Linked DNA regions of Homo sapiens. The protein of the gene in region 6 purifies or fractionates together with the protein of the main gene of each other region. This does not show direct contact. Each region holds a gene or a part of one and is shown on either strand. Other genes may lie near its edges. The genes, in order: C2CD3, PIBF1, BSPRY, SPICE1, PFKL, CEP162 and TOP3A.

Region 1 (3,500 bases), on a different chromosome or scaffold from region 6:
TAATTTGAGATGACTAGTAGCTTCTGTTTATTAAGTGGTTATATATTCACCACACAGTGTATGCCCATTTCTTTCGTGTATTCTCTACTGTAACCTTATGAAGTGGGTGGTGTTGATTACACTGTACAGATCAATAGGCTCAGAGAGGATGGTTTGCTTATGATCACAAAGTTAACAAGTGACAACAGAGATTCGAACCCAAGATTGACCGGCTCCAAAGCCTATGCTCTTTCCAACATACCTTGCTGCTTCTATTTTCTGTGTAAATCTTCCCTGCCTTATCATATGGGTGATAGATATTTCCTTGCTTTTATTTTCGAAGTAAAATAGGTAGTTTTAATAACTGTCATCAAATAGGTAAATAAGTGGATTCTCATTTTGATTTTTAATATAGGTAGTTACTGAAGTAACTGGAAGCATGAACATGCCCACCAGGACTCCCAGCTCCCAACGATTCCTGAGCATGAGCAGATAGTCTCTGAAAGCATTTCCACAGATGTATCCACAACTATAGATTAGATTCTGGTCCTCTGATATTAGAATAAAGTACTAAAAATTGTACCGCCTTGAATATAGTCTCACTGAATCTTGGGTGGACTAATTTTCTTTATGGTTTGTTCAGAGTCTGATTGCCATAGTGCTTCTGAAGCTAAAGGCTAGTGTGGGAAATTTGAGGGGTCTGTGGCCCTACCTTGTAATAAGAGTGATATGTGTTGCTGTTCAGATCTGCAGACTATCACCAGGGATTCGCAAGCAGCTTTGAGTTCTCACCGAGCCAGGAGTAGAAGCAACAAGGCCACCACCCTCCCAGATGCTCAGGACACAGAAGCACTGCAAGAACGATGCACAATGCCAGATGAGCCATTGGTAAGAGCTCCAGATAAAGGCACAGATTCCCCATCACCCCCTCCTCTCGAAGAGACTTCAAATGGAGGAAGAATGCTCCATGAGTCCCTGAGGCATGCAGTACCCATTACAAGGATGCAGAGCAGTGAAGACACTGAGGCAGGCCCAGCCTACAGTGATGAGGACTATGAAGAAGACATCATTGAGCCCAGGACCTTAAATGAGATCACCACGGTGACAGACAAAACTAGCCCTTGGTCTAGTGTCATATCAGACACAAGTGAGGTCATCAGCCCTCAGCCTGACGAGGTGCAGAGGGAAGGCCCCTCTTGTCCTTCTCCAGGGCCTTTCTGCAGAGAGGAGCTTATGGTCAAAAGTAGCTTTCTCTCCAGCCCAGAAAGGGCTGTCAACCCCCACCTGCCTAGGCAGGGTTCTCCTAGCCAAAGTCTTGTTGCTTGTGAGTGTGAGGCCTCTAAGGCCAGGGTTGGTGGCGAGTCTGCCTCAGCCAACCCTCAGCCCATCCCATGCCCAACACTCTCAGGAGCTCAACAGAGCAGCACGTTTGTTGGATGGAGCTCACCACAGACAGATCAGAACAAGGAGCCCAAGTCAGAGGCCCCAGCTGAGAATGAAGCTGCCACCAGTGAGCTCGGTGACTCTGCTGATAGCTTCAAGAAGTTGCCGCTAAATCTAGCCTCCCAGAGCAGAAGGGAAAACCATAAGGGACCACCCATCGACTCCTCTGACATCAGGCAGAGGCAGGTGACAACTGGATCAGAGACGTCCACAAAGCAGAGCCTCCTGCTGTATCCTTTGGCATTTCCCACAAGTGGTTTGGATGCAGGTACTTAGACTAGCCTAGTGTGAGTGTGAGCAAGTGGCCACCCTCATGGAATGCACTAGGGGGCATGGAAAGACCATTCCTTCAGAAGACCCCACCTGCATGACAGGTGCTACAGTTTTACCATTAACACCAGCCCTCAGAAACATAATGCCTTGAACTGGGTTTAGGCATTCGTAGCACATTAGCCTAGCCTACCCTGATTTATCCAATTCATCTGTTGGGTATTTTACCACCTGAAGGCAAGGCTTGGGATCTAAGGAATGAGACTATTTATCAGTTGAAAGAGAAGCAGAGGGTCTAGAGAAAGAGGAAAGAAAATCACTGCCATTGAGCACTTTATGTACATTTTTCATTCAGTCATCACAAGTCTTTTAGGTAGGTATCATCCCTATTTTGCATATATAAGGAAACTGATGCTCAGTTATTGTGACTTGCCTTTTTTTTTTTTTAAGAGACAGGTTATTCTGTCACCCAAGCTGGAGTACAAGGTTATTACCATACCTCACTGCAGCCTCAGATTCTTATACTCAGGTGATCCTCCCACCTCAGCCTTGCAAGTAGCTAGAACTACAGGTATGCAGCATCACACCCAGCTAATTTTTTTTAAGAGTTGGGGTCTTGCTGTGTCACCCAGGCTGGTCTCAAACTCCTGGCCTCAAGCAATCCTCCTGCCTCACCCTCCCAAAATGCTGCAGTTAGAGCATTTGAGCCACCACGCCTGGCCAGATTAAATTTTTTTAAAAAAGGAAGTGATGGAGCTAAACAGGCACCATGGAGATGGACTTTCCCAAGTCCCCAGTAAGGTACTGTTGATGGGAACAGGGGGCACCTGACATTCCCCACTCCTTCCTTTTAAACACAGACTGGCATGTTATGGGGAAAGGAAACCACTTAGGACCATCTACAGCCTTCACACCTGTAGCCTAACCAGCTGATCAGATCAGCTCACCTGCTATCCCAACAAGCAGGGAATATTGTACGGCTGGCAGGTGAAGCAGGCTGCTTTACTAGACTAGAGATCTTCCTCTACTAGAAGTCAGGGAGCCTGACTTTGACCCTTCTAGACCCACAAAATTATTTTTGTGATTATAGACATATAGTTTAATCTTTATGTGCACGTTTCTTCACCTGTAAAATGGAGGCGGAAATCCCTTACCCACCAAATTATAAGCTCCCCAGGTCAGGGACCTTGTCTTTTTCTGCATCCTCAGGACCTAGCACTACACAGAGAAGGGATTGGTAAATGTAGATTGGATTGAACTATCACAGTTTCACAACATTGTTGAGAAAACCAAATGAGTGGAAACATTTGTACACACCACACAGTATGATTCTTGATGCAGATCAGAGAAAAACCTAGGGGTGGGAGAGTGGGCTCAGGAAAGGATTAAAGCATGCAATGGCTGGAGGCTGAGCTTTGAAAATAGACCTCCTTGTGTGCAGTTCTCCCTGGCCTTGCCCATCCTGGATCCTGGCCCCTAATGTTGCTGCCTTTGCAGTCAGTATTAATTGTGCTCAGAATATGGCCGATGGAGGAGATGCCACATGTGCCCAGACCCTAAGTGCTGCTTTAACTTAGGCCTTCCTGACTATTCTTTCAAAAATAAATCGTGCCAGGCCCTGTGCTGGGTGCCAAGGACAGATTTGAATGAGACCTTACCTCGAGAAGTTCCCATTATGAGATAGGAGACAGTCAAGTAGATAGATACTGACAGTTTATTGTGCCAAGTACTGTGATGAGATGTGGACAGAACGCGAGGGACCATGAGGAGGGAGCTGCCCTAACTCTACTTGGAGCCATCCCAGTAAG
Region 2 (3,500 bases), on a different chromosome or scaffold from region 6:
GTAGAGACAGGGTTTCACCATGTTGGTCAGGGTGTTCTTGAACTCCTGACCTCAAGTGATCAGTCCACCTTGCCCTCCCAAAATGCTGGGATTACAGGCATGAGCCACCGCGCCTGGCCTCCTGCCTCCAGTTTTGCCAACCTCCAAATTTATATTCCTCTATCTTACCTTTAAAAAATGCTATCAAAAATTTATTTTCAGCTGGGTGCGGTGGCTCACGCCTGTAATCCCAGCACTTTGGGAGGCCGAGGCGGGCAGACAACTTGAGGTCGGGAGTTCAAGATAAGCCTGGCCAGCATGGTGAAACTCCATCTTTACTAAAAAATACAAAAATTAGCCAGGCATGGTGGCGGGCGCCTGTAGTCACAGCTACTCAGGAGGCTGAGGCAGGAGAATCACTTGAACCTGGAAGGCGGAGGCTGCAGTAAGCCAAGATTGCACCACTGTACTCCAGCCTGGGAGACAGAGCGAGACTCCGTCTCAAAAAAAAAAAAATTATTTTCCTAGTTTTACATTCTTCAGAGGATCCTCACTGTCCTCAGAATAAATTCTAAACACTGTGGCATAATACAGTGGTATTTCTTGATCTAGCCAACTACTTTTGTCATTAGCTTAAAAGGAAACTCCATTTCAGCCAATATTAAGTGCTTGCCATCCCCCAAGTATGCTGTGCTTTCTCAAGCACTTGGATTTTGCTCTTAGTCTATTTAGAAAATTCTTTATTCCCTTTGCTTTAACCAAGACGATTCCTGTTTGCCCCTTAAAATACATGAATTTCAGGCAGGGCGTGGTGATTCACACCTGTAATCCCAGCACTTTGGGAGGATGAGGCGGGTGTATCACAAGGTCAGGAGATGGAGACCATACTGGCTAACATAGTAAAACTCTGTCTCTACTAAAAATACAAAAAATTAGCCGGGTGTGGTGGCATGTGCCTGTAGTCCCAGCTACTCGGGAGGCTGAGGCAGGAGAATCGCGTGAACCCGGGAGGCGGAGGTTGCAGTGAGCTGAGATCATGCCACTGCACTCCAGCCTGGGCGACAGAGTGAGACTCCATCTAAAACAAACAAACAAACAAACAAACAAACAAACAAAAATACATGAATTTCACAGCCAATCCATAACATATGCAAGTAAATCCCTCCTCTTGCATCGTCAAGTCCCTCTTCTCTACTGAATCATTCTATCATCAAGCAAATGGTCCCTTGATCACATCATTCTCTTTGCTATAGCACCATTTCTCTGTTGGTCTTCAGAGCAAAACTTCAATATAGTTTTTGCCCCATACTATTCCAGTGAAACTATTCTTGTTAAAGTCCATAATGTCCTGTGCATTGTTTTTTTCTGCCTATTTATCTTATTTGACAGCATGACTTGATACAGCTAACCACTTCATTCTCTTTTAGCTTCCATGATACTCTTCTCTAGTTTTCTTAACTCACTAAATACTCTTAAGCTTTCTAGGCTCCTCAGCTGGACTACCCCTTTGACTTACTTTATAGCCCTCTGTTCTCCCTAGGAAATACCATACAATCCCATGGCTTTAGGTGCCACCTATATGCTGATTTATCTATCTATCTATCTATCTATCTATCTATCTATCTATCTATCTATCTATCTATGTGTGTGTGTGATCTATCTATAAGGGTGTGTGTGATCTATCTATAAGTGTGTGTGTGTGTGTGTGTGTGTGTGTGTGTGTGTGTGTGTGATGGACTCCTCCTAAACTCTAACTGACAATTACATTTAGGAATCTATAAGTTACACCTTCAAAACTGAACTTATTAATATATTTTACCTCCCAGATCAGTTTTCTCCCAGCCTTCCATTCTTATAAATGGCCCCAGTTAAATAAGCCAAAAACTTAGGAATGTAACTCTTCTGTTTCTGTCTTGTCTGCCCTTAGTCTATTATTTTAGTGCCATTTTGAATACAGAAATCAGGACATGTAACTCTTAACTGCTAAACTTTGCCAATAGCTTTTCTGACTACATAGTCTAAAGCAAGAATTAAAAAATGGTGATGGGCTAAATCCAGCCCATAAGAAAAATCTGATAGAGCATAGGTGGCCTACAAAGCATAAAATATTTTCTGTCTTGGCCATAAGAAGGGGGACCTCTGTCATATCCATTGGCATATATCCAGCAACATCTCAATAAATAAATCAATATAAAATGTAAAATAAACACATTCCTTATAATTACTGTTTCCCAAATCAAGAATACTGTTACATGTTGAGCATCCCAAACCCTAAAATCTGAAATTCAAAATGCTCTGAAGTCTGAAACTTTTTGAGAGTCACTATGACACTCAAAGGAAATGCTCAGTTGACCCTTTTGGATTTCAGACTTTCAGATCTGGGATGCTCAACTGGTCTAACACAAATATTCCCAAATTAAAAAAAAAATCAAAAATCTGAAATATTTCTGGTCCCAAGCATTTTAGATAAGAAACAACCTGTATCACGAGGAAAAAAAAAACATTTTTTTCAGGGTTTCAATGTTTATAATTTCAATTAACTTCTAAATTGAGTCTCTTAACTCAAGGACAAGCTGGGAAATGTATTCATTTCCCAGGTAATAAGGAACCCACAGATCTCTAATGAGAGATAAATAAAAAGAGTTTGGGGCATTTAAAAATTTTAAAGAGCTCAATTCTGTGGCTCAGGCTGTAAACCCAGCACTTTGGGGGGCCAAGGTGGGAGGATTGCTTGAAGCCAGGAGTTTGAGACTAGCCTGGACAACATAGTGAGACCCTGTTTCTACAAAAAAATTAAAAAAATTAGCTGGGTGTGGTGGTACACGCCTGTAGTCTCAGCTGCTCAAGAGGCTGAGATGAGAGGATTGCTTGAGCCCAGTAATTTGAGGCTGCAGAGAGCTGTGATCAAGCCACTGCACTCCAGCCTGGGCAAGAGAGTGAGACCCTGTCTAAAAATTTGAAAGGCAAGAACAGAGAAGAGGAAAGGAATAAAGAAGTACAGTAAGGAAGGGAATCTAGGCAGCAATAGATGGAAATAAAAGTGTAAAGCTAACAATGCTCTACTATCAGGAAGTTTGGCCTGAATAGCTACTCTTCTGAGTAGCTTTTCTACATTCTTTCAGTTAACAAGCAGCTGAGTGGGAAGTGCTTTTAAAGTGTTCTTGGACCTGCTTGTTCCTGTTTTTAGACATGGAGAATTCAAATCAATACGGCCAAGACTATTCCTAGTAACAAACTATAATAAAGCCATGTATCCATAACCATTTGTATTGGTGCCACAATGGAGTGGGACATGTTAGATTCAAATATTTTCTAACTAAAAAAAGATTTTGATGGGTAGAAGAAAAAACTTACTTGCCTCCCAACATCAAACCTTCCCTTCTTTCTGACATACTCTGGTTTTTATTAGTAACAACATGTCCAGTTAGCTTCCCATCCCTTGTAGGTAGGGGTGGTCATGCTATACAATGTTAGTCAATTGAGGCCACTGGCTTGAACTTCTGGAAGAACTCTTTAAAGAG
Region 3 (3,500 bases), on a different chromosome or scaffold from region 6:
GCCTCCTTCATGTCAGAAAGTCAGGGACAGCCAGCAGCTTTCCCTATGCCCTGTCCCTTAAGACCTGCTTTGTACAGTGCACAGGGCAATCATTCCTATTTTACAGAAAACACTGAGACCCACAGTTTGCCTTACAGGGAGGAGAGACTAGCTAAGTGAATGGCAAGTGAACCCAGAAGGTAAGACTCCAAGTTTATAGTGTGCTCTTGAGGCAACATAACATAGTGGTCAGGAAATTAAGCTTTAGAGGTAGTGTGTAGATTTAAATCTTAACTGCTCCGCTCATTAGCTGTGGAACTTAGAACATATTCCTTATCTTCCCTATGCCTCTATTTTCTAATCTGTAAAATGAGGATAATAATAGTACCTACCTCATAAGGCTATAGTGAGGGTTAAATGTGTTAATATATATAAAGTAAGTAGAACAAAGCCTGCTACATTATGTGTTCAATAACATTCATTCACTATTGCTCTTCTTTATCTTTTTTTTTTCTTTTCTTTTCTTTTCTTTAAGAGACACAGTCTTGCTCTGATGCCCAGGCTGAAATGCAGTGGCACAATCATAGCTCACTGCAGCTTTGAACTCCTGGGCTCAAGCGATCCTCCTGCCTCAGTCTTCCAAAGTGCTGGGATTACAGTCATGAGCAACTGCATCCAGCCCACGATTATTCTCCTGTTTATCCCACTTTAATGCCTTACCCACAGGGTGAGCCCCTGAAACCATGGTTGTACTGTGTGATCCTGGATCAAAACAGATCCTCACCCAAGATGAATCAGATTCTGATTCCTGCCTAAAAGACTCTAGTCATTCTCAACAAGTTTGTTGAGCCATTCCCAGAAAAGGAGAGCAAAGAAAAGAAAAACTTCCCTTTCCAAACACATGACAGAGAGTAGACAAACCAAAAACCCTCTCAGAATAAAGTAGAGAAATGCTGGAAAAATAGCCCAAGCATCCTTTTAAAAGTGTGGTTGTGGCTGGACACGGTGGCTCATACCTGTAATCCCAGCACTTTGGGAGGCTGAGGCAGGTGGATCACCCAAGGTCAGGAGTTTAAGACCAACCTGGCCAATAAGGTGAAACCCCGCCTCTACTAAAATACAAAAATTAGCTGGGCCTGGTGGTGGGAGCCTGTAATCCCAGTTACTCAGGAGGCTGAGGCAGGAGAATTGCTTGAAGCTGGGAGGTGGAGGCTGCAGTGAGCTGAGATCGCACCACTGCACTCCAGCCTGGGTGACAGGGCAAGACTCTGTCTCAAAAAAGAAAAAAAAAGAGGTTTTTATTTTTTGTTTTTTGAGACAGGGTCTCGCTCTGTCACCCAGGCTAGAATGCAGTGATGCAATCATAGCTCACTGCAGCCTCAAACTCCTAGGCTCAAGTGATCCTCTCACCTCACCCTCCCAAATAGTTGGGACTATAGGCCCATGCCATCATGTCTGGATAATTTTTTAATTTTTTGTAGAGATAGGGTCTTGCTATATTGCCCAAAACAGTCTCGAACTCCTGGGTTCAAGTGATCCTCCTGGCCTTGGCCTCCCAAAGTGCTGGGATTATAGGCATGAGCTACCATGCTCAGCCCAATGAATAAGCTTAATAGAGATATATATATATATATATATATATATATATATATATATATATATATATATATATATAGAACTCTACAGGCCAGGCACAGTACCGGGTCATGCTGGTAATCCAAGCAGTTTGGGAGGCCAAGGCAGCAGGATCACTTGAGCCCAGGAGTTCAAGGCTGCAGTGAGCTATGATTGCGCCACTGCATTTCAGCCTGGGCAATGGAGTGAGACTTTGTCTAAAAAAAGAGAAAGAAATAATAATGAAATTAAGACAAAGATACAAAAGAGTAGACCAAAAATACTAGAAGCTGGTTCTAAAGACTAACAGTCAAACCTGTGGCAACTTTGATCAAAACTAAGAACAACTTTATCTTAAGTAAACCCTTAAGAAAAAAGAGTTCTGTTTTCCAATCCATTGAATAAGGCTCACATAACCTTGATACCAAATCTGATGAGGACTGTACAAGAAATGAAATTCATAGACTAATCTCACTCCTGAGCATACAAGCAAAAATCCTAAAACAAAAATAAAAAATGCTTTACTGAGATTAGCAATCCAAATTCAGAAATTTTGTATTAATAATACAAGGGGATAGGAAAGGGTACATGTGGCTATAAAAGGGTAGCACAAGGAGTCCTAGTGATGGAACTGTTCTGTATTTTAATTGTGGTAGTAATCACATGAATCTATGCCTGTGATAAGATAGTTAAATAAATATACACCATTTGAGAGCAGTGATCTCTCCCACCTCCTTGGAACCCATGCTGGGACACTCTGCTCTCTTAGTTTACTTCCGTTTCATTAGCTGATTTCTTGGTCCCCGTTCGCTGGTTCCTTCTGTCTTCTCAATAGGAGGTGAAGTGCCCTAGGGCTCAGTCTTTGGACCGCTGCTCTTTCGTGTCTACACTCATTCACTTAGTGATGTCATCCTCTCCCACGGCTTTCAATACTATTTATACACTGATAAATCCCAAATTTATATCTCCAACCCAGCCCTCTCCCAACTCATATATGCAGCTACCTACTCAGCACCTTCACTTGGATGTCAAATAGGTATCTCAAACATAACATGCCCACAACAACTTAGCATGCCTGCTCTCCCCCACTCCCCTCCCTGCCTCCGCCAACCATCACTCCACATGCAGTCCTTCCCCCACCCAGTTCATGGCTGCTCCATCCTGCCAGTTGCTCAAATAAAAAAACTTCAGCATTATCCTGACACCTCCCCTCTTTCTTTCATAGCCTACATCTAGTCCATCAGCAAATCCTGTTGCCTCTTCAAAATATATGCAGAATCTAGCCACTTCTCACTAGCTTTGCCACCATTGCTTGGGTCCAGACCACACTTGTTTCCCACCTGGATTATTACAATGGCTTCCTAACTGGTCTCCCTGCTTTAACCTTTGCCGCCTATAATCACTTCTAAACATAGCAGCCAAAGTGTTTCTTTCTTTTTTTTTTGAGACAGAGTCTCGCACTGTTGCCCAGGCTGCAGTGCAGTGCGCAGTCTCAGCTCACTGCAACCTCCGCCTCCCGGGTTCAAGTGATTCTCCTGCCTCAGCCTCCCAAGTAGCTGAGAATACAGGCGCCCGCCACCATGCCCTGCTAATTTTTTTGTATTTTTAGTAGAGACGGGGTTTCACCGCGTTAGCCAGGATGGTCTGGAACTCCTGACCTCGTGATCCACCCGCCTCAGCCTCCTAAAGTGCTGGGATTACAGGCATGAGCCACTGCGCCCAGCCTCAACCTTCTTAATGAAGTCATTCCTGGTCACAGCACATGTAATTGCAACCCGTCCTATTCCCCTTTCTGTTTTATATTTCCCCATAGCACATATCACCTTCGGACATAACATAGATTTTGTTACTGTCCCTCTTCTGTGACAAGAATGTAGGCTTCATGAAAATAGGAATTTCTGTTTTGT
Region 4 (3,500 bases), on a different chromosome or scaffold from region 6:
GAGCCAAAAGTATACTCCTGAAGATTCCTGAGTTAAGGGTGAAAGAATGTTAAGGTTTTAATAGGTCTGACAATACAATGAATCTGTCATTAAAAAGTTAATTTTAGGGTCAGGTGCAGAGGCTCACGCCTATAATACCAACACCTTGGGAAGCCAAGGTGGGCAGATCGCTTTGAACTCAGGATTTCGAGACCAGCCTGGGCAACATAGTGAGACTCTGTCTCTACAAAAAAAATACAAAAATTAGCTGGGTGTGGTGGCATGCACCTGTGGTCCCAGCTACTTGGGAGGCTGAGGCTGGAAAACCACTTAAACCCGGGAGGTGGAGGTTGCAGTGAGCCGAGATCATGCCACTACTGCACCCTAGCCTGGGCAACAGAATGAGACCCTGTCTCAAAAAAAAAGCAATTCAATTTTAGGAAGACGGCTCTAGAGAAACTAAAACATCTGTATTAAGGTGGTAAATCTATCTTATTAAATAATAAAGTTTCCTTAAACATTTTTGTCATATTTGTATAACAGGCTTAAGTACATAACAGTTTAAATAGATTTTCAAAGATGAAACACATAGCTAACTCTAATTCTGTGGCATTCTGTGGATGATTATTTGAAATCAAATTAAACAAACAATTCTTTTTTTATTTTTATTTTTTGAGACAGTGTCTTGCTCTGCCGCCCAGGCTGGAGTGCAGTGGCGCGATCTCGGCTCACTGCAACCTCCAACTCCCTGGTGAAAGTAATTCTCCTGCCTCAGCCTCCCCAGAAGCTGGGATTACAGGCGCCCGCCACCATGCCCGACTAATTTTTGTATTTTTAGTAGAGACAAGGTTTTACCACGTTGAGGCCAGGCTGGTCTTAAACTCCTGACCTCAGGCAATCTGCCCGCCTCGGCCTTCCAAAGGGCTGGGATTATAGGTTATAGGCGTGAGCCACCACACCCAGCCAAACAAAGAATTCTTGCTTATTTTATAAATTATTTTTACAACAATAAAACATCTCCCACTTAGACATTGAAGCCATATGTGAGTTACCAGACATACAGGGAACATGAAGAATTCTCCCACATATCAAGTCTACCGATTATAGGCAATGCCACTCTCCAAACTGAATGTGGGAGTAGGAAGCAGAGAATAGCAATAGAATGCAGACACAGTTAACAGTTCTATTTAATCTACAACTGTCAAACAGTAATATTTAATATTAGCACAAGATATAATTATATTAATGGCAGATTTACCCTACTAATTATAATTTGCTAAAGCTCTTATTAAAATTAAAATCACTTATCTGAGCATGTATCAACTAACGGCAGAAAAGACTTAAAGGATAAGCCTTTACTGCAGATAATCTAAAACTGAGGTATTTTAAACGAAGCTATTCAAATTTGACTGTACTTTATTTGGAGGTTGCAATAAATGGAAAGGAAAAAAAACTCATGCATTTCTGCCTGAAAAGAAGACTCTACTAACCTAATGTCCTTACCTCTTTAAGGTACCGAACCAGGCGACAGAGGGAGCTCACCAGCGACAAAGTGAAGCCTGTAAGACCCTGACTGCTCTGCAGACCCTTGACCTCGCGACCTGTCCACCGCTCATATTCTTCCATTTCATGTTCCACTTCATGTATCATGTGTTTGAGGACATCCAGGTTGGAATTAGTCCTATTTGGTAAGTCTGCAGAGGTTGTGCTACCTGATGATATGTTTTTCTTCGGCTTGGAAAGAGCATGCAAATTCGGTTTCCTTTTCACTGATAATGAGAGAAGTCATTCTATTTTAAGACCAGGAAAAATTATGACTAGAAAACTACTAGAAAAATCTTTTGACTATTGTTCACAATTTATAAAAGGCTTGTATAGACGATATCACCATTTCTCTCATAAAAATTAAACAGTTTAAACCAGATTTACACTAGCTATAATGAATGCACTAGAACCACTGTTCCAGAGTTACATGTGGTAGGAGACATTTCTTAGCTACCATTCAATAAACTTTCAGTTGGAACCATGTGGATGAGATTAAGGGAGAAAAACATTGACTAAGAGATTAAGACAGCTGTATCAAGTTACATGTTTAATATTCATCTTTGTAAATTAAGGGACTGAACCTTTATTTAACAGCTGTTTTTGCTTCCTTGAGTTCAGCACGTGTCCCACAACGTAGCTTGAGTCTAGAGTCTCAGTAGATTCTTCAGGCTGAAGCCTGGTTTGGAGTCTCTTGACAGCATTGGTAGCATTCAGAGCAGCTAAAAGGAAGAACATTTCCAAAAGTATCTCAAGTGAACAAACTTCTTAAGAAAGTATTTCAATTGACAGATCCATCAGTATTTTAGTCAATTAGGCAAAGGCAGTCAAAACTCAAATAACATTCCTTCAAAAATTACTGCATTCAAGAATGAACCTAATAAAGCAGGCACCTAGAAATAATGCAAAAGGGAAACAAACCTCTTTGCTCCCCTGATGAAAGAGCAGATGATGGCGTTCCTGGAGGAGTTATTTGTGACTGGGTTGCTATTTTCTGCTGAATGTCAGTCCACAACTTACTAATTAACTCAAAATTCTCTTCTGTTAGTTGTTGGAGAAACCTATAAATTACAGGACAATAAGCTACATGAGAATTATAATATAAATTAATATAATATAAATATAAATTAAATGATAGCAGGCATTTAATTTATATTTACATTATCTATATTATTATAATTTATATTTATATAATTATAAATTTAATTTTATATATAAATATGCATATAAATTTAATTATAATTTATAATTAAATTATATAATTAATTATATATAATTATATAATAATTACACATAATTATAAAATATATTCTATATTACATGTAATTTAATTTATAATTTAATTATATAAATTAAATTATATTTATATCTAATTTATATGTATATTATATTAATTTATATAAAAAATAGGTGCTATCATTTAAACTGTTCAAATAGTTACATGTTTGATTTGAAGGAGCTTTTAGTAATTCATAGTCAAAGAAAAAACACTATTCACTATAACTGATAAGACAGGTAGATAGCAAAAATGCCTATCACCTTAGTGTTAGAAAGAATCATTCCATCTGCCTCCCAGTTTCCTACCTACCTTGGTCCCTAACATAGGTATGTTTGCCCTTTCTGCAGTTTTGTGGTATGGCTCCATCCTCCTCTCTCTTTCTCTAGAGTAAAGTAATTAAGCATATATGGCTCAGCCCCTTTTGGTTTCTCTGTCCTACAAAGGAGCCTGTCCACAGAGCAGCCAGTCTCTGCTCATCAATGAAGTAAATTGACCACAGCATACTCTGTCCCTGTGTGTCAGGGAGGGGCTAGATAGAGTGAGAAGAGATGCTGCAGTTTAGGGGTTAGTAATTACAAGCACATTGGTTACAGAGCTAAGCGTTATGCTATAAACACTTTTATCACTGATAAGGTTGATATTTTAATTTTCAACTGTCTCATTTGTCTATTTCTCAAAGTGCTAAAGTTACAGCCTACCT
Region 5 (3,500 bases), on a different chromosome or scaffold from region 6:
GCGGATGCCAGCTCAGCTGTGGGCTTCTGCTCCTCCCTCCGCCTTCTCCCCAACCAGGTGTCAGGGCCCTGGGGGCCAGGAGGGCAAGTGCCTCAAGCAGGCAGGGGGTCAAGGGATAGTGCGCGCTGCGGGGCGCATGAACATCCCCACTCTGGCCATGGCGGGCTTCTAGCCTGACAGCCTCCCTTCCCCACCAGCTGGGCTGGGGGACAGGTGCCCCTGCCCCATCTCAGGGGCTGATCTGAGGGACCACAGAGCTACTTCCTCCGGCTCAGGCCAGGCCAGCCTGGCCCCCTCTGGTTGTACCAGCCCTGAGCTAGGAACAAGGAAAACAGGAAAATGATCCCAAACCCACAGCCCCACCTGAGCAGGAGGCCACCAAACACAGGTCTGTCTGCAAAACTCAGGATCCAATACAGAGCCCAGGCGCCAGCCAGGCCCCTGCCCCACTGGGCGGAGGGGCAGGCAGGTATGGCCAGCCCAGCAGTCCCCAGAGACCCCACAAGGCCAGTGGCTCAGTTCTGCTGGAATCAGTCTCACAGACACAACCTCCTCCTACCCTTGGAATCTTCTAGAAGCTGTTTGCCCCCCTCTACCCACTCTGTTTCCGTCTCTGTCCTCCTAGGCCCAGCTCACCTTCCCCTCCTTCCCCTCTAGCCCCGCCCCCTCCTCTCACCCCTGCAGGCCTGGACCCAGGCTCAGGGCCCTCCCTGCTATGCTGTGGGCTCTGCCTGGGGGGATAAGAGTAGCCTGTTCTGAGCCCTCCTTTGTGTCAGAACTGAGAAGGGTTTTCACCTCCAAGGCCACCCTCCCTTTCTGCCCTAACAATAGCCCCAAGGAGAAGGGATCGGTCTCCCTGCTGAAGGAAGCCAGCGCTGGGGGCTCAGAAACCCAAAATGCAGTCTGATGTGAACTGACGCAGCCGCAGGTCTCCCTGACCTCCCCCTTCTGCCTCTCGACCCTCTGCCTCCTCCAAGCTCAGGATGCAGCTGCTCCCTGAAGCCCCCGAATCTGCCTAAAGCCCATAGCTGCTGGAGAAAGGAACAGTGACGGCCAGTCCCCTCCCTGAGTTTCCATGCACTGAGGTCATCGTAGGAAGAAAGACCTGTGTCTGCCAACACACTTGGGCAGGTGGTCACCAGGGCTAACAGATGCTGTCCAAGCCCATTGAATCCCCTAAAAACCATTCATGGCCGTGCACAGTGGCTCGCGCCTGTAATCCCAGCACTTTGGGAAGCAGAGGCGGGTGGATCACCAGAGGCCAGGAGTTCGAGACCAGGCTGGCCAACATGGTGAAACCCCGTCTCTACTAAAAATACAAAAAACAGCTGGGCGTGGTGGTGGGTGCCTGTAATCCCAGCTACTCAGGAGGCTGAGGCAGGAAAATTGCTTGAACCTGGGAGGCAGAGGTTGCAGCGAGCCAAGATTGTGCCACTGCGCTCCAGCCTGGGCAACAGAATGAGACTCTGTCTCAAAAAAAAAAAAAAAAAAAATTCCTACCCCCCTAGAATCATCCAGGCTGCCCATGCCCCTTTCCCTGGGAGGAGGGCAGGTCAGCATCTTCGCCCTACCTCTCCATGCCTATTCACAATGAATGCCAGCACCTCTGCCCTATTAATCCGCTTTTCGCAAGTGGATTCTTCCAAGAACCTTCATGGGACGGAGGGGAAGTCTTCCCTGGGCCGCTATATCAGAATGTCTCATCTCAAAATCTGCCTCTTAGATGTGGATGTTTCTGAGCTAAAGCCCACTAGGCAGCAGATTCAGGGAAGCTCTCAGCCTTGCCTCCCTTTGAGAGGAAAGCAGCACACAGCATCCCAAGACTAAGGCTCCTCCTGTTACCGCCTGGACAGGATGTAAATGCCCCTCACAGCCCTCAGGACCCAGAGACAGCCCCAGGACCCGCGCCCACCCACTTCATTCTTTTTCCCATAAACTCACCCTCCTGCATTCCCCCACCTCCGAGGGCCTCACGCTGCGTCCCTGTACCCCTCGGCTTCTCCATGTGCACTGGTCTCTGCTGGGCTCTGCAGAAGCCAGGACTCTAGGCACGGCAAAGTGCCTCTTCTCCCCTTTTCCAGGACACGCCCTGCACCGATGAACCTGTTTTCTGTCTTTTGCCACAGGAGTCTTTCCCAACCACAAATGTGTGGGGGTTCCGGAAAACCCTAATTTCTCCCCTTTGCCACTTAGAAGAAGAAACTGAAGGTCGAGCAGGTGGCAGGAGGGGTTTGTACGGACACAGCCCAGCCTGCCTAGAGAGGCCCCCACACCCAGCTCCCCAGGGCTCTGAGACCTGCTTCCTAATCCAATACTGGCAGGGCCCCAGCCTGGCCACAGGGAGAGGACGGGCCAGCACAGACTGCCCACTCACTCATTCATTCACACAGTCCTGCAGAGGGAGGGCTGGACAGGCTGCTGTTCCCTGGGGCCAAGATGGGGGAACTGAGACCCAGGGCGGTGAGTGGTCAGCAGCGAGCAGTGAGCAGTGAGGGGGGTGGGGCTGAGTGCCTGGGGCTGCAGAGCTGGGGTTGCTACATTTTATATAAACAGCTACATATTACATAAAAAGTGGCAACAAAATAACAAAAGACCTTGTCTTGTGGAATGTGGAAAACCACCTGACAAGGCAAGAATGCAGCCTGTGAGTGCGTGGTGTGGCCCAAGTGTGTGAATGCGCCTGTGTGTGCACATGTGTGAGCGCAAGTGTGGGTGTGTAAATACCCAGGACGGAGGGCGAGCCCCAAATCTCCCACGGGGACTGGGGCTGAGGCAGTAGGGCATCCGCTGCTCCTGCGGGGACACAATGAACATAGACACAGCAGAGCTGCTGCCAGCGGCTGCCCCCCGGGTCTGGGTGGTGAGGCAGGAGGCTGGGGAGGACAAGGGCAGAGGCGGTGAGGTCCCTGGCCCCCACTCACAGAGGCCTCGGGGCGGGACAAGGGCCAGGCTGGGGGACACCAGGCAGGGGTGTGGTGGGTGGGGCCTGGCCCGTCAGCGATCACTGTAGGCAGGGCCTCGACTCCTTGTCCACCCAGCTCCTTCCCTGCCCCCAGGCCCGTGCTCTGCAGCCTCTGAGCCTCCAGCCGGGCTGAGTCCCAAGGCAGTAGGTCTTCTTTCTGCAGATGCCTTTGGCCTGGCCCCAAGCTCCCCCTCACACTCCCCAAGACCACATACCCATCAGCTCCTCCAGGCCAGGACCACCCCGTCTCCCAGTGTGACCCACACAGAACACACCTCGGCATGCGCCTCAGGAGGTCCCCACTCCCTGCACACACACAGCCCACCTTGGCCTTACCTCGTAGATGAGGAAGACTTTGGCACCCACATAAATGCCCATGCGCGTCACAGCCCGGACAGCAGCGTTCATGCCTGTGGAGGTCAGGGCAAACCTGTCAGTCCCACGCTGAGAAGCAAGGCCCTGGACACCCTCCCCATCTCAGAGGACAGGGGGTAGGGGAGGCCTGGACACCCTGTCCATCTCAGAGGGCGGGTGGTGG
Region 6 (3,500 bases):
AATCTTCCTCCAGCAGTGATTTTTTTTTTCCCCTCTCTTGAGCCAGAAACAGAAAAGAATGTAAAGGGTCTCACTGGGTCTTTCCACCCGGGTCCACACAGTCAGGATGTGGTGATTCCTTCAGCCACTCTCCCACTTACCTCCTGTGAAATGCAGTGCATTAAACTGACCTTAGGCCCTTTGGCTTTGGGAATTTTGCAAATTATTTTTTCAATTAGCCATTTTAAATGTTATGGAAAGAACTGTTTTTAGACACCAAATTTTCTTCAGATATAATATAAAAAGTTTAAAAAAGACTTTACATACGCAAAAGCTAAAGAAACTTAAAAGGCCGTTTAAAGGATTAATCTATTATGAGCACATATATTATGTTATATAAGTACTAATGACTTTTAACTAAAATGCAGTTTTCTGTTTTTAAAAAGGAAAATGAACGATTATATAATCAAGTAAAAGATCTCCAAGAACAAAACAAGAAAAATGAGGAGCGAATGTTTAAGGAAAACCAAAGTTTATTCAGTGAGGTAGCTTCCTTAAAGTAAGTCCTTTTGAACTTCTTAAAATCAAATATACTTAGACTATTTCAAGCATTTTCTTATTATGTTAATAATACATTTATTTTTACTTAGACATAGTAAAATTTTATTTTTATTTGTACACATTTCCAATTTTATGTTTAATACTCAGTGGATTTTTCTTTTGGTGTTAGATGGCCAGCACATACTTGATAGTATTTTCAGCATATTCATATTTGAATTCATATGAATTTATGTTCATAACTGATTCAAACATCAGTTTCAGGAAATTGAATATATAGTATTCCTCTTGATCAGTCATTAAGAATGAGATAATTAACCATTTCCCAAGGAACCATTTGATTAATAATACTAAAAAAGAATGGTCATACAGTATCACTTATGATCTTCTTGGGTCAGGTTCCATAGAAGCAGAGCCTGAGATGGTGGAGGTCCTTGTGGAGATGATATACTGAAGGATAACTCCCAGGAGAAGGGAGCAAGGGAAGCAGGAACGGTGAGGTAGGGGGAGGGCAAATAGTGGTCTCAGCTGGAGACTGGCTTCATTCTCCTCCCAAGAAGCTCTGGAGAATAAATTGTACCAGAGTTGGTCCCTGCTTGAGGCAAGGGGGCAGCCTTAGTCACTGGCCGGAGTGTACTGTGGAAAGGAGTAGGGGCTGCCCTTTATGCCGGGTCAGGGGCTGCGGTTTAAAGGAGCACCTGTAAGTTGTTTTCAGCCAGCATTTATCATGGCAGGGTTATGGAGCACCAGCACCTACTTAGGAATCATATTTCAGACTATAAGGTCTTTTGGACGTTACTGCTTCCAACTTTAACATATTAAGTGAAAAAGCTGGGCCCGTGAACATGGACAAGCTAGCATACTATCTTCTTTTAGAAAATGACCACTATTTGTGTATCTTTTTATGTAAACACCTAATCACTCAGAAAGGACTGTTCTCAGAAGTTTCTGACCCATGAGTATCATGAATGTTTACTGAATTTATTTATATACTTCTCCCCCTTTTTGGTTATATAACCTAGGGCCTAAGAGGCAGGGCTGCTAATAATAGCTCATACTGATCTGTCAGGCAAAATAGAAAAAGACACACTTGGTAGCAGACTATATATATATATCCTCTTTCTCCTTGTAAGTTGGTAAGTGTAACCCCAGGCCATGTGTGATAATCTGCACAGTGGTAATGCATGAATGCATTTACTTACGCTTTTTTTTTTTTTTTTTTTTTTTTTTTTTGAGACGGAGTCTCGCTCTGTCACCCAGGCTGGAGTGCAATGGCGTAATCTCGGCTCACTGCAAGCTCTGCCTCCCAGGTTCATGCCATTCTCCTGCCTCAGCCTCCCGAGTATCTGGGACTACAGGCACCCGCCACCATGCCCGGCTAATTTTTTGTATTTTTTAGTAGAGACAGAGTTTCACCATGTTAGCCAGGATGGTCTCTATCTCCTGACCTCGTGATCCACCTGCCTCGGCCTCCCAACGTGCTGGGATTACAGGCGTGAGCCACCGTGCCTGGCCTACTTATGCTTTTTTTCCCAGATGTTTCAGTAAAGTTATTTTAAAATATCTTATCTTGTACTACTTGGCTTCTAAAAGAAGATCTATCCCAGGATCCAAAATTGAAGCTGTAAATTAACTTTCAGAATGAAATAAATGGTTTCTTTAGTACATTAGGGTTAGATGATCTTATGTGGAATCCAAAACTCCTTCTATAATATCTCTGGAATAACAGGAAAATTGAATCTAAAGTCCAGATATTAGGCTGTGTTTGGTTTTGTTTGTTAGTTTCCATGTATGAGACTGGCGACTCTCAGAAAAGATTCTAGAACAATATGACAAGGACTGCATTAACAACCCCACAGAAAAATGCAGCGCATCTTTGTAGACGATTAATTTTTTTCCTCTGAGAATTGGGAATTAATATTTTTATATTATAAATAAACCAATAATCTTAGGTTTCAGTTCTTTTAGAATAGATATAAGCATTTCCCTTAAAGTATATTTCTCTTTTAGTATGGTAGTATTTTAATCTTTAGATTAAATGAAAATTTTACCTTCATTTATGCATACAGTTTCAATGTATGTTAGTTTTTAATTTTTAAGAATTGAATATTTTCTACTGAAAGGAGCACCTGGTAAGAAAGAAAAACAACTTTTTATTTTCAAAATAAATTAGAGAACAGATGCACAAAAGTCGTTTTCTGTCTCAAGTAGTTGAAGATTCAGAGCCCACAAGAAATCAGAATTTTACAGATCTGTTAGCAGAACTACGGATGGCACAGGTAAGTTGCATAACGATTTTGACTATTAGGGATAATAAAGGTTTTATAAAAATCCCCATTTTTATACAAATTTTTATTAAAAAATTACATAGAAATGTATTAAAAAATCTATAAATTTCATACCATTTAAAACTTAGGGAGAAATATCTTAAATTAGCATATAGTATGCACATGACCTTAGTATAGAGGAAACATTATATTACTGTTTTTAGATGTCATTGTCTTTATGATTCAGCCTCTCATCAGGCATTTGTCACATCTCATCAGGTGCATTTATCATAGAGCCATATCAGAGGCATGATTTTATTTAGGACATGTATACCTTATTTCAAACAAATTCCTTATTTGAAAGCGTGCAGCCTAAATAGTGTAATTTGGAGATAATTATTTACCTTTAAAAGTTAGTAGCTTTCTACCTGTCTTCCGAAGTAGACTGCACTTCTAGAGAGCAGAGACTGTATCTTACAAGTATTTATATTCCACATACCTAACATAAAGTTGAAATGCAATGCTGTTCCATAACTTTTTTATGTTTATTAAATTGTATTATAAAGAATATGGCCTAGAGTTTTCTAAAGCAGTATTTATCAATAGAAGGAGTTTGGGAATTTAAGGCAGGGTAGTTCTATTTTAAGCAGAAGTAATTCATGCACTGCATGATTTTTATCATCCCTGTCCCTAAGA
Region 7 (3,500 bases), on a different chromosome or scaffold from region 6:
TGTTTGATTTGTTTTTGTTGTTGTTGAAGAAGTCTCACTCTGTTGCCCAAGCTGGACTGCAGTGGGGCAATCTCGGCTCATTGCAACCTCCACCTTCCGGGTTCAAGCAGTTCTCCTGCCTCAGCCTCCCAGGTAGCTGGGACTACAGGTACGCACCACCATGCCTGGCTAATTTTTGTATTTTTTTTTTTTTTTTTTAGCAGAGAAAGGGGTTTCACTGTGTTGGCCAGGCTGGTCTTGAACTCCTGACCTTGTGATCTACCCGCCTCGGCCTCCCAAAGTGCTGGGATTACAGGCGTGAGCCACCGTGCCTGACCCTTGTTTGGGGATTTTATGGAGGATTTATTACTTAGGCATGATTGACAAATCACTGGCCACGTGTGATCAACTCAACCTCCAGCCCCTCTGCTCTTCCTGAGGTAGGGGTGGGACTCAAAGTCCCAACCTTCTAATCACAGGGTTGGTTCCCTGACAACCAGACCGATCCCAAGGCTACCCAGGAGCCCTTGGCCACTAGTCATCTCATTTGTATACAACAGACACAGCACTTAAAAAATTCCAAGGGTATCAGAAAATGAAGTCCAAATATATATATCTTATTATAAATCATAATATCACAGGTAGAAAACACATCATTTCTAACAAAATACACACATGCTGCTTGCTAAATATCCACCTCTAAATGCTCCAGAAAACAAATGGATCACACTCCAGCACTTGGGTTTACTGATTTAAAAGACTTTGTTGCCTAACTCAAGATAATTAATGTGTCATGTAATTAAAGCAGAAAAAAAAAAGATAATTAAAATCAAGAGAATGGTATTTCTAAAGCCAATAGTTCAGAATAACTGAAGGAGACTGTTCCGATTACTGTTTCTATACTGACAAAGCTCTATGGAGAGTTGTAAAAGAACCCAGAGAAGAAAGTCCAAAGAAAAGGGGTATGTGGAAAACCTCCAGGCCAGGAGGCCACTGGTGAGGATGAATCTGGCAGGGTTATAAACTCTGACTGGCCCAGATGCGGTGGCTCACGCCTGTAATCCCCACACTTTGGGAGGCTGAGGTGGGAAGATCTCTTGAGGCCAGGAGTTCAAGACCAGCCTGGGCAACATAGTGAGACCCCTCTGTATTTCTTTTAAGGACTTACTTCTTTGCTTTAGCCACCGCTTCAATGAAAACCTGCTTGTATTTCTGCACTTGCTGCCTTAGAACCACAAATTTGTCCTTTTTGCCATCACAGATCAGCTTCAGATCAGCTTCCAGTTCAGCCCGGAGGTCAGGCTTAGACATTTCATAGCCCATGGAATCATAACCTGCAGGGAGAGAGTCGAGCTCAGTGAGGGCCCACCTGAGACCCTCAGGGACTTGGGCGACACCACCCACTACCCACTGCAAGCTCTGTCCTCCCTTACCTTCCACAAGTCCCATGCCCAGGTGCCCAGGGAGGAACCGCTTGTCTGGGGTGAGGCCCACGTACATCCGGGCTTTGATGGTCTCGATGTGCTCCGCATGAGTGGCATCCGTACCTGGAAGCCACTTGCTGGTTACTCTGAGGTAATACAGACAACAGCTCCACCCGGGTGGCGCATGGGCACCTTGCTCACCCCGGAATCCCTCCTTTGCCTGGACAGCCTATGCAGGTAAGATGCCTTCATTTCATTCCCATATAGCTCATTCAAGAAATCACAATGGCAACCTCAACTCTCTTGTTCCCTCACATCCCATTACTCAGGAAAGCTGTCAATTCCAGCTTCAAAGCTCTTTTTAAAAATTCTCTTCCCCATGTGTCCAAGCCATACTTGCAGCTTGTGTCCCTATTTCTAGTCTCTTCCTCTACCCTAACCATTCTTTAAGCTGTGGCCAAAGGGACCTTTCAAAATGTAGCTCTGCCATGAAGGAAATGCAAATTAAAACTGCAGTGAAGGCTGGGAGCAGTGGCTTATGCCTGTAATCCCAGCATTTTGGGAGGCCAAGGTGGGCAGATCATCTGAGGTCAGGAGTTCGAGACCAGCCTGGCCAACATGCTGAAACCCTGTCTCTATCAAAAATACAAAAATTAGCAGGGTGTGGCGGCACGCACCTGTAGTCCCAGCTGCTCAGGAGGCTGAGGCAGGAGAATCACTTGAACCCAGGAGACAGAGGCTGCAACGAGCTGAGATGGCACCGTTGCACTCCAGCCTGGGTGATGGAGTGAGACTCTCTTTAAAAAAAAAAAGAAAAAAAAAAGGGCTGGGCGTGGTGGCTCACGCCTGTAATCCCAGCAATTTGGGAAGCCGAAGCGGGCAGATCACGAGGTCAGGAGATCAAGACCATCCTGGCTAACACGGTGAAACCCCGTCTCTACTAAAAATACAAAAAAAAAAAAAAAAAAATTAGCCGGGTGTGGTGGCGGGCACCTGTAGTCCCAGCTACTCAGGAGGCTGACACAGAAGAATGGCATGAACCTGGGAGGCGGAGCCTGCAGTGAGCGGAGATCGAGCCACTGCATTCCAGCCTGGGCAACAGAGCGAGACTCCACCTCAACAATAACAACAAAAAAACAACCAAAAAAACCAGTGAAATAGCAGTTCAGACCTACTGGCAAAATCAAAAAGAGAGATAATACTAAGTGTTAGTAAGGATGTGGATAAACTGGAATCCTAGTGCCTTGCTGGTGGAAATGAAAAACGGTACAGCCACTTCAGAAAAGTTTGGTGGTTCCTAAAAATGTTAAATGTAGAGTTACCAAGTAAACCAGCAATCCCACTCCTAAGTCTACCCAAGAGAAATGAAAACACATATCCACACAAAACCTTGTACAAAACTGTTCACAGCAGGATTATTTATAATAGCCAAAGAGTAGAAACAACTCAAGTGTCCATCAACTGCAACCTCTGCCTTCCGGGTTCAAGTGATTCTCTTGCCTCAGCCTCCCGAGTAGCTGGGATTACAGGCGCCTGCCACCAAGCCCAGCTAATTTTTTCATTTTTAGTAGAGAAAGTGTTTCACCATGTTGGTGAAGCTGGTCTCGAACTCCTGACCTCAAGTGATTGGCCCACCTTGGCCTCCCAAAGTGCTGGGATTACAGGTGTGAGCCACTGTGCCTGGCTCTTTATAGGAAATAACTAAAGTAGGCAAATCTGGCCAGGTGCAGTGGCTCACTCCTGTAATCCCAACACTTTGGGAGGTTGAGGTAGGAGGACAGTTTGAGGGTGCAAGTTCAAGACCAGACTAGGCAACATAGCAAGACCCTGTCCCTACATAAAACAAAAAAGTCTGGCTGGGCATGGTGGCTCAGGCCTATAATCCCAGCACTTTGGGAGACCGAGGCGGGTGGATCATTTGAGGTCAGGAATTCGAGACCAGCTTAGCTAACAGTGAAACCCCATCTCTACTAAAAATACAAAAATTAGCCAGTGATGCGCACCTGTAGTCCCAGCTACTCAGGAGGCTGAGGCAGGAGAATCTCTTGAACCTGGGAGGCGGAGGTTGCAGTGAGCTGAAATCGTGCCACTACACTC

The links.
Region 1: the proteins of CEP162 (region 6) and C2CD3 purify together in Homo sapiens (affinity purification with mass spectrometry; one large-scale study listed by BioGRID and IntAct). This does not show direct contact.
Region 2: the proteins of CEP162 (region 6) and PIBF1 purify together in Homo sapiens (affinity purification with mass spectrometry; one large-scale study listed by BioGRID and IntAct). This does not show direct contact.
Region 3: the proteins of CEP162 (region 6) and BSPRY purify together in Homo sapiens (affinity purification with mass spectrometry; one large-scale study listed by BioGRID and IntAct). This does not show direct contact.
Region 4: the proteins of CEP162 (region 6) and SPICE1 purify together in Homo sapiens (affinity purification with western blotting; one large-scale study listed by BioGRID and IntAct). This does not show direct contact.
Region 5: the proteins of CEP162 (region 6) and PFKL purify together in Homo sapiens (affinity purification with mass spectrometry; one large-scale study listed by BioGRID and IntAct). This does not show direct contact.
Region 7: the proteins of CEP162 (region 6) and TOP3A purify together in Homo sapiens (affinity purification with mass spectrometry; one large-scale study listed by BioGRID and IntAct). This does not show direct contact.

Annotation. Positions count from the first base shown.
Region 1 is NC_000011.10:74,031,503-74,035,002, reverse strand, and holds part of C2CD3 (C2 domain-containing protein 3), read left to right. Parts: intron 1-394; coding exon of another isoform or gene 395-405; exon of another isoform or gene 406-561; intron 562-724; coding exon 725-1,652; intron 1,653-3,500. UniProt on the Homo sapiens protein: Component of the centrioles that acts as a positive regulator of centriole elongation.
Region 2 is NC_000013.11:72,788,633-72,792,132, reverse strand, and holds part of PIBF1 (progesterone-induced-blocking factor 1), read right to left. Parts: intron 1-3,500.
Region 3 is NC_000009.12:113,356,041-113,359,540, reverse strand, and holds part of BSPRY (B box and SPRY domain-containing protein), read right to left. Parts: intron 1-3,500. UniProt on the Homo sapiens protein: May regulate epithelial calcium transport by inhibiting TRPV5 activity.
Region 4 is NC_000003.12:113,466,657-113,470,156, forward strand, and holds part of SPICE1 (spindle and centriole-associated protein 1), read right to left. Parts: intron 2,583-3,500; coding exon 2,443-2,582; intron 2,244-2,442; coding exon 2,106-2,243; intron 1,749-2,105; coding exon 1,483-1,748; intron 1-1,482.
Region 5 is NC_000021.9:44,306,553-44,310,052, reverse strand, and holds part of PFKL (ATP-dependent 6-phosphofructokinase, liver type), read right to left. Parts: intron 3,373-3,500; coding exon 3,299-3,372; intron 2,794-3,298; coding exon of another isoform or gene 2,725-2,793; intron 1-2,724. UniProt on the Homo sapiens protein: Catalyzes the phosphorylation of D-fructose 6-phosphate to fructose 1,6-bisphosphate by ATP, the first committing step of glycolysis.
Region 6 is NC_000006.12:84,168,644-84,172,143, reverse strand, and holds part of CEP162 (centrosomal protein of 162 kDa), read left to right. Parts: intron 1-425; coding exon 426-538; intron 539-2,710; coding exon 2,711-2,816; intron 2,817-3,500. UniProt on the Homo sapiens protein: Required to promote assembly of the transition zone in primary cilia. Acts by specifically recognizing and binding the axonemal microtubule.
Region 7 is NC_000017.11:18,283,995-18,287,494, forward strand, and holds part of TOP3A (DNA topoisomerase 3-alpha), read right to left. Parts: intron 1,527-3,500; coding exon 1,413-1,526; intron 1,314-1,412; coding exon 1,148-1,313; intron 1-1,147. UniProt on the Homo sapiens protein: Releases the supercoiling and torsional tension of DNA introduced during the DNA replication and transcription by transiently cleaving and rejoining one strand of the DNA duplex.